2 separate regions of the Homo sapiens genome follow, and region 1 is linked to region 2. Evidence: fine-mapped expression QTL. Tissue or cell type: whole blood. Region 2 holds a variant in brackets; the other region holds the start of a gene. Each region is shown on its reference strand, or each on the opposite one. Region 1 holds the start of CCDC106 (coiled-coil domain containing 106). Region 2 has its middle 5.5 kb from the start of BEND3.

Region 1 (2,905 bases), not on the chromosome of region 2:
AAGTCACCATGGGCCAAGGAAGCAGATGGCAGGGCACTGGAGGCTGATGGGATTTGGGGAGCTGACGGAGAAGGCAGGAGGACGGGCCCCAGTAGACAGTTCATGGGGATGAGGCCCTGGAATCAAGTGAGGAGGCAGCTGGGCCTGGGGGCCCAAAACAGGCAGGGGACTAGCAGATAGGGCCAACATGGCAGGTCCCACCCAGCCAGCCAAACAGTGGAGCCTTGAGTCTGGGTGAGCGGGTACCCAGTAGCGGGACAGGGAGGCATGTGGATCAGAGCACCCCACACACACCTGCCTCCATCCGAGCAGAAGAGATGAATTTGTCCAGCTGGCACCGCAGGAAGTCCCTCTCTTCCTCCAGGTCCTCGATGCGCTTCTGCAGCCAGGAGTTCCTCTCCAGAGCCATGTGCAGCTGGGTCTTGACGCTGTTCATCAGAGCCAGGGCGGAGGACGCAGCCTCCGGAGGCTCTAGGGACACAGCGAGGGTGGGGGGACCAGGTCACACCCTGGGACTCAGGGCTTGGCTTCCCAGCTGACTCCAGTCCCTCCACACCCCCTCAGCTCACCCTCGAAGTTTCTCCGAGAGGGGCTCAGACTGTAAAAGATCTGTGGGTCTAGGTGGGGTGCCTCATCGAAGGGAATGGAGATCTCGAAGGTCTCATCGTCCTTCACTGGAGAGGAGAGGCCCCGGGTTACCCCAGAGAATTCCCCGGGCCTCTCAGGCCACCCCCCAACCACGGCAGCCTGGAGCCGACCGCACTGGGACCCAGGGTAGGGAAGGGGACCCAGCTTCCTCACTTGTCCGCCTCCGACTGCTCCGGTCATTCATGGCGCGGCTTCCTACGGACCCCAGCAGCCGAGGGCCTCAGGGGCACTGGACAGAAACGGCAGCCACAAATGGAGAGACGCAGATGGACTGGAGGGTCCATCCTGGGGGAGGTGAAGTGAGACAGGAGGGACCTTCTGGCCTGGACCCCTGGTCTGAGGGAGGAGGGAGCCTGGACCCCAGGACTGAGGCAAAACGCGCCTGGGCTTCAAACTCCTGGGCTCCTGGAGTCAGGGGCAGGGGGCCCAGCCGCCTAGGTCCTGGGGGAGAAGTGAGCTGGGGACGTGGGCTCCTGGGTATCGAAGGAAAAGGAAGCTGAAGCCCTAAATTGCTGGGTGCCCCAAGGGGTCGCCTGACCAGGGACACCTAGCCTGAAGGGGAAGGACCCTCTCTCATCGCGGGCCACTGCCAGGCCTAAGGAAGAGGCAGGTGCAGGGGGAAACTGCCCCAACTTCCCAGGGTAGGAGGAGGTCCAGCCCGTGCGCGCTGCCTCCTCTACCTTCGGGGCCCCCACACCCCTCCCCCGCACTCGCGTGGGCGGGCGGACCGTCCCCCGGTGGTGGGGGCTGGGCGCGTGCGCAGTACGGGGAAAGGTCACGCGTGGGGGTGCGCCCCCCCCGCCCCCGCCCTTTGTCCCGCGGGTGGGAGGGGGAGCGGTCGTGGAACGATTCCAGCGGGAACATGCACTAGGGCGGGGGTGCAAACGCGGCCACCATCCCCCGCCCGCGGGTGCCCGGGGTCCGAGGGGCCGAGGCCCCCCGCGCTCACCCACCCGCTCGCGGAATCCGGCTCGGGGACCGACGGCGGCGGCGCCCATGCCCGGCGCCGGGGAGCGTCTGCAAAGTGTCACGGGGAGCCGAGGGAAGCGCCCACCCACCCGCGAACAGGCGGGGCGGCAGGGGAGCGTGTCGTGGAACTGAGCGACGGAACGGGCAGGGACGCGGGGACTCGCCCAGTCGGGCCAGGCTAGCGCCCCTCGTTGAAGAGTCCCCGGGTCCAGGTGAGGCCCGCCGTTTGCGGCAGAAGCAGAGGGTCTGCACTTGCGCGATAGCCCCTTACAGCACTCCCCCGCCCTCCCCGAAGCTCAGGCAGGGAACATCACGAAATTCCCATCCTGGAGAGCTGGCGAGTCTCCGGGGGTCCCCGGATTGGGTGGCGGTGTGCCCAATGGGCCCAGAAGGCAGGAGAGTGTTTGAGACACCGAGAAAGTTGGAGCGAAAGGAGAATCTACTTTTAACGCTCTCTCAGGAACTAGCCAGCGCGGACCCCTCAGAGCTCCCCTACCTCCTACAGCCAGACCCCAAGGTTCTCAGGGATGTGGGGGCCAAAATCGGGGGAGTTACCCCTCTCCCGGAAAATGAGGGCCAGGAACACGCCACCCCCATCCCCATGTTGGTAATTAAGAGCTGGCTTTGGAGCAAAGCTAGATTCCAGTCCTGACTGTTCCTGCTCCTCCCCAGCCTGTTAACTCACCTGCAAAATGGGGAAATTACAAGCCCTTCTAAATTTATTGTGAGGATGCAGTGATGCGACACACAGAAGCTCAGCCCAGCACCTGGCCATCGTCAGGGCTGAAGAGAGGAGCGCTGCTGGTATTATTTGAGGTCAGATGGTGGGGTATGATGGCAGCCTCTGGGAGGCTCTTTCCCACTCTGGGGAGTATGAACGGAAGATTTGTTCTTCCTCCCAAAAAAACAGGTCGGAAGAGCAAATGAGGCCTAGCACAGTGCCTGGCACAAAATAGGCAAGAAAAATGAATGAATAAGCAGATGTTTATTAAGCTTCAGGCTCAGCTCCACCTGCCTCTCCTGTTCACCAGAAGCATCCAAGCTCTGGACTGTGGCCAGCCCTTATAAGAGCAAGGTCTTAACCCGATGGAGGGAGAATCTAAATGTCTGCACCGCCTGCAAAGCTGTGACCATGATCCTCCCCTCCCCACTTTACAGATTAACTGCAGCCTGGTCCAAAAATTCCAGGGGGAGCCATCTGCCCTAGATTGGTCTTTTCCAAACTACAGGTTCATGGGTGGAGAATTCAATAGAATAGGATGAAATCAGCAGTTTAAAAAAATATTTA
Region 2 (2,905 bases):
TGCAACCTCCACCTCCCGGGTTCAAGTGATTCTCCTGCCTCAGCCTCCCAAGTAGTTGGGATTACGGGCACCTGCCACCGTGCCCAGCTAATTTTTGTACTGTTAGTAGAGACGGGGTTTTGCCATGTTGTCCAGGCTGGTGTCAAATTCCTGACCTCAAGTGATCCGCCCGCTGCTTCGGCTGCCCAAAGTGTTGGGATTACAGGCATGAGCCAGCGTGCTGGTCTCTTCCCCTTCTTGTAAGGATGCCAGCCCTATCAGATTAAGGCCCCACCCTTGACCTCAAATAACCTCAGTTACCTGCTAAGGGCCTTATCTTCAAATATTCTCATTCCAAAGTGTACTGGGGGTTAGGACTTCAACATATGGATTTGGAGGGGAACCAACTCAGTTCATAGGAGTCTCCATGGACAGAGCAAGCTGCCATGGGGGTGCAGCACAGGGCCTCCATCCCAGGCTTGGGACACATGTGGCCTCTTGAGGAAGGGACTTAAGCTGCCTAAGGACTAAAGGGTGAGGTTGGGGGCAGGGCCTGATAATTTAAATGAATACAATTCTGTGAAGCACAGACCTTATAGATTTCACTCCTTGACGGTTTCTTTCTTTTTTTTTTTTTTTTTTTTTTTTTTTTGCCTGTTTGATGTTTGGTAGTAATAATTTAGAAAGTGGAACCCAAAACCATAATTCTAAAGCCCAATAGCCTTGAGCAAGCCACCCTTTCTTTTTGCCCCAGTTTCCTTAGCGGTAGAACCAGGCAGTTGACACCTATTATTTCTCAGGCCCTCATGTGTAATGACTAGAGGGAAATCCTTACATATATTCACAGTGACCTCTTAAAATACCGTGTTGACACTTCAGCAACTTGAAAAAAGGAGGCTTTGGATTCTGTAACCAAGTGCCATATTTACTTTGGGGTCATTTTTACCAGGATTTCTTCTCTTCCTTTTATTTCAGCCATAAAATTATGTAGAGAAAGGGGGGGATTGGTGACGTGTTTAAGTCTAGGCTCTTACACCAGCTGAGCATGACTTAGCTACTCTAGAGTGACTTCTGCTCTTTAGGCCATGGTAATGACTGTTTTTAGTCTGTGTGAGGGGAAAGGGCTACAAAGACGTAGATACTCATTATGGGGGAAAACAACCAAACATCACACACATGTATAACGTGAAAAAGTCCCTCTCTTCTCTCTATCCGATATACCTCGCGGTCACCTCTATGACCTCTGTATTTCCCAGAACATTTTTTTTTTTCTTTTTGACACAGGGTCTCACTATGTTGCTCA[G/A]GCTGGTCCAGAACTCCTGAGCTCAAGTGATCCCCCTGCCTTGGCCTCCCAAAGTACTGGGATTACAGGCTTGAGCCACCACACCTGGCCTCCCGGACCTTTTCCATTCACAACCCAGATACATACGTGATGTTCTTCTTGACAAAAATAAGATTACATTATATATAAATCTGTCGGCCAGGCACGGTGGCTCAGACCTGTAATCCCAGCACTTTGGGAGGCCGAGGCGGGCAGATCACGAGGTCAAGAGATCGAGACCACCCTGGCCAACATGGTAAAAGCCCGTCTCTACTAAAAATACAAAAATTAGCTGGGTTTGGTAGTGTGTGCCTGTAGTCCCAGCTACTTGGGAGGTTGAGGCAGGAGAATCGCTTGAACCCGGGAGGCGGAGGTTGCAGTGAGCCAAGATCGCGCCACTGCACTCCAGCCTGGCGACAGAGCGAGACTGCGTCTCAAAAAAAAAAAATCTGTCATTTTCTTCTTTTACTCAACAATATGTCATCAACATTCTTCCATATCCATAAAAAAGAACACCTCCCTTTCCTCTTTCTAGTTTACAGGCCATGCATGATGGCTCACACCTGTAATCCCAACACTGTGAGAGGCCAAGGCAAGGAGGATCACTTGAGCCCAGGAGTTTGAGACCAGCCTGGGCAACACAGCAAGACCCTGTCTCTATAAAAAGAGAAAAAAAAATGAGTCCGCCCTGGTGATTTGGCCTTGTAGTCTCAGCTACCTGAGAGGGTGAGGTGGGAAGATGGCTTGAGCCTTGGAGTTTGAGGCTGCAATGAGCCATGATCATACCACTGCACACTGGACTGGGTGATAGAATGAAACTCTGTATTTAAAAAAAAAAAAAAGCTTACATAGTATGTCATGGAAGGTATTTTTAGCTATTTTCCAAGTTCTCTTCGATTTCTTTGCTATCACAAATGATCCTGCAACGAACATATTTGTCTATGTAGACCTTTTTTTTTTTTTTTTTTGAGATGGAGTTTCACTCTTGTTGCCCAGGCCGGAGTGCAATGGCACGATCTTAGGTCACCGCAACCTCCGTCTCCCGGGTTCAGGCTATTCTCCTGCCTCAGCCTCCCGAGTAGCTGGGATTACAGGCATGCGCCACCACGCCTGGCTAATTTTGTATTTTTAGTATAGATGGGGTTTCTCCTTGTTGGTCAGGCTCATCTCGAACTCCCGACCTCAGGTGATCTGCCTACCTCGGCCTCCCAAGGTGCTGGGATTACAGCTGTGAGCCACCACACCCAGCGCAAATAAGACTAATCTTAACATATATCCTATCATTTAGAGTCTTTGTTTTGTTTTGTTTTTCTCAGAGATAGGGTCTTTCTCTGTCGTCCAGGCTGGAGTGCCGGGATTCCATCATGGCTCACTGCAGCCTCAAACTCCTGGGCTCAAGCAATCCTCCCTTCTCAGCCTCCTGAGTAGCTAGGACTACAGGCATGTGCCACCACACCTGACTAATTTTTTGATTTTTTTTTTTTTTTTTTGAGACAGAGTCTTGCTTTGTCGCCCAGGCTGGAGGGCAGTGGTGTGATCTTGGCTCACTGCAACTTCTGCCTCCTGGGTTCAAGAGATTCTCCTGCCTCAGCCTCCTAAGTAGCT

The links.
Region 1: CCDC106 starts here. The variant in region 2 is fine-mapped to the expression of CCDC106 in whole blood (TOPMed, PIP 0.97).

What each region holds. Positions count from the first base shown.
Region 1 is chr19:55,646,974-55,649,878 of GRCh38, reverse strand. CCDC106 (coiled-coil domain containing 106) reads right to left here and starts at 1,667. Exons shown (of 5, transcript NM_001370470.1): 1 at 802-1,667; 2 at 570-674; 3 at 295-471. The coding sequence starts at 832. RefSeq lists an enhancer at 202-251 and silencers at 1,312-1,441, 1,472-1,591.
Region 2 is chr6:107,119,605-107,122,509 of GRCh38, reverse strand. No RefSeq gene overlaps it. Among named protein-coding and RNA genes, the nearest start is that of BEND3, 5.5 kb to the right of the region's middle. The variant G/A (reference allele first, on the strand shown) is at 1,283.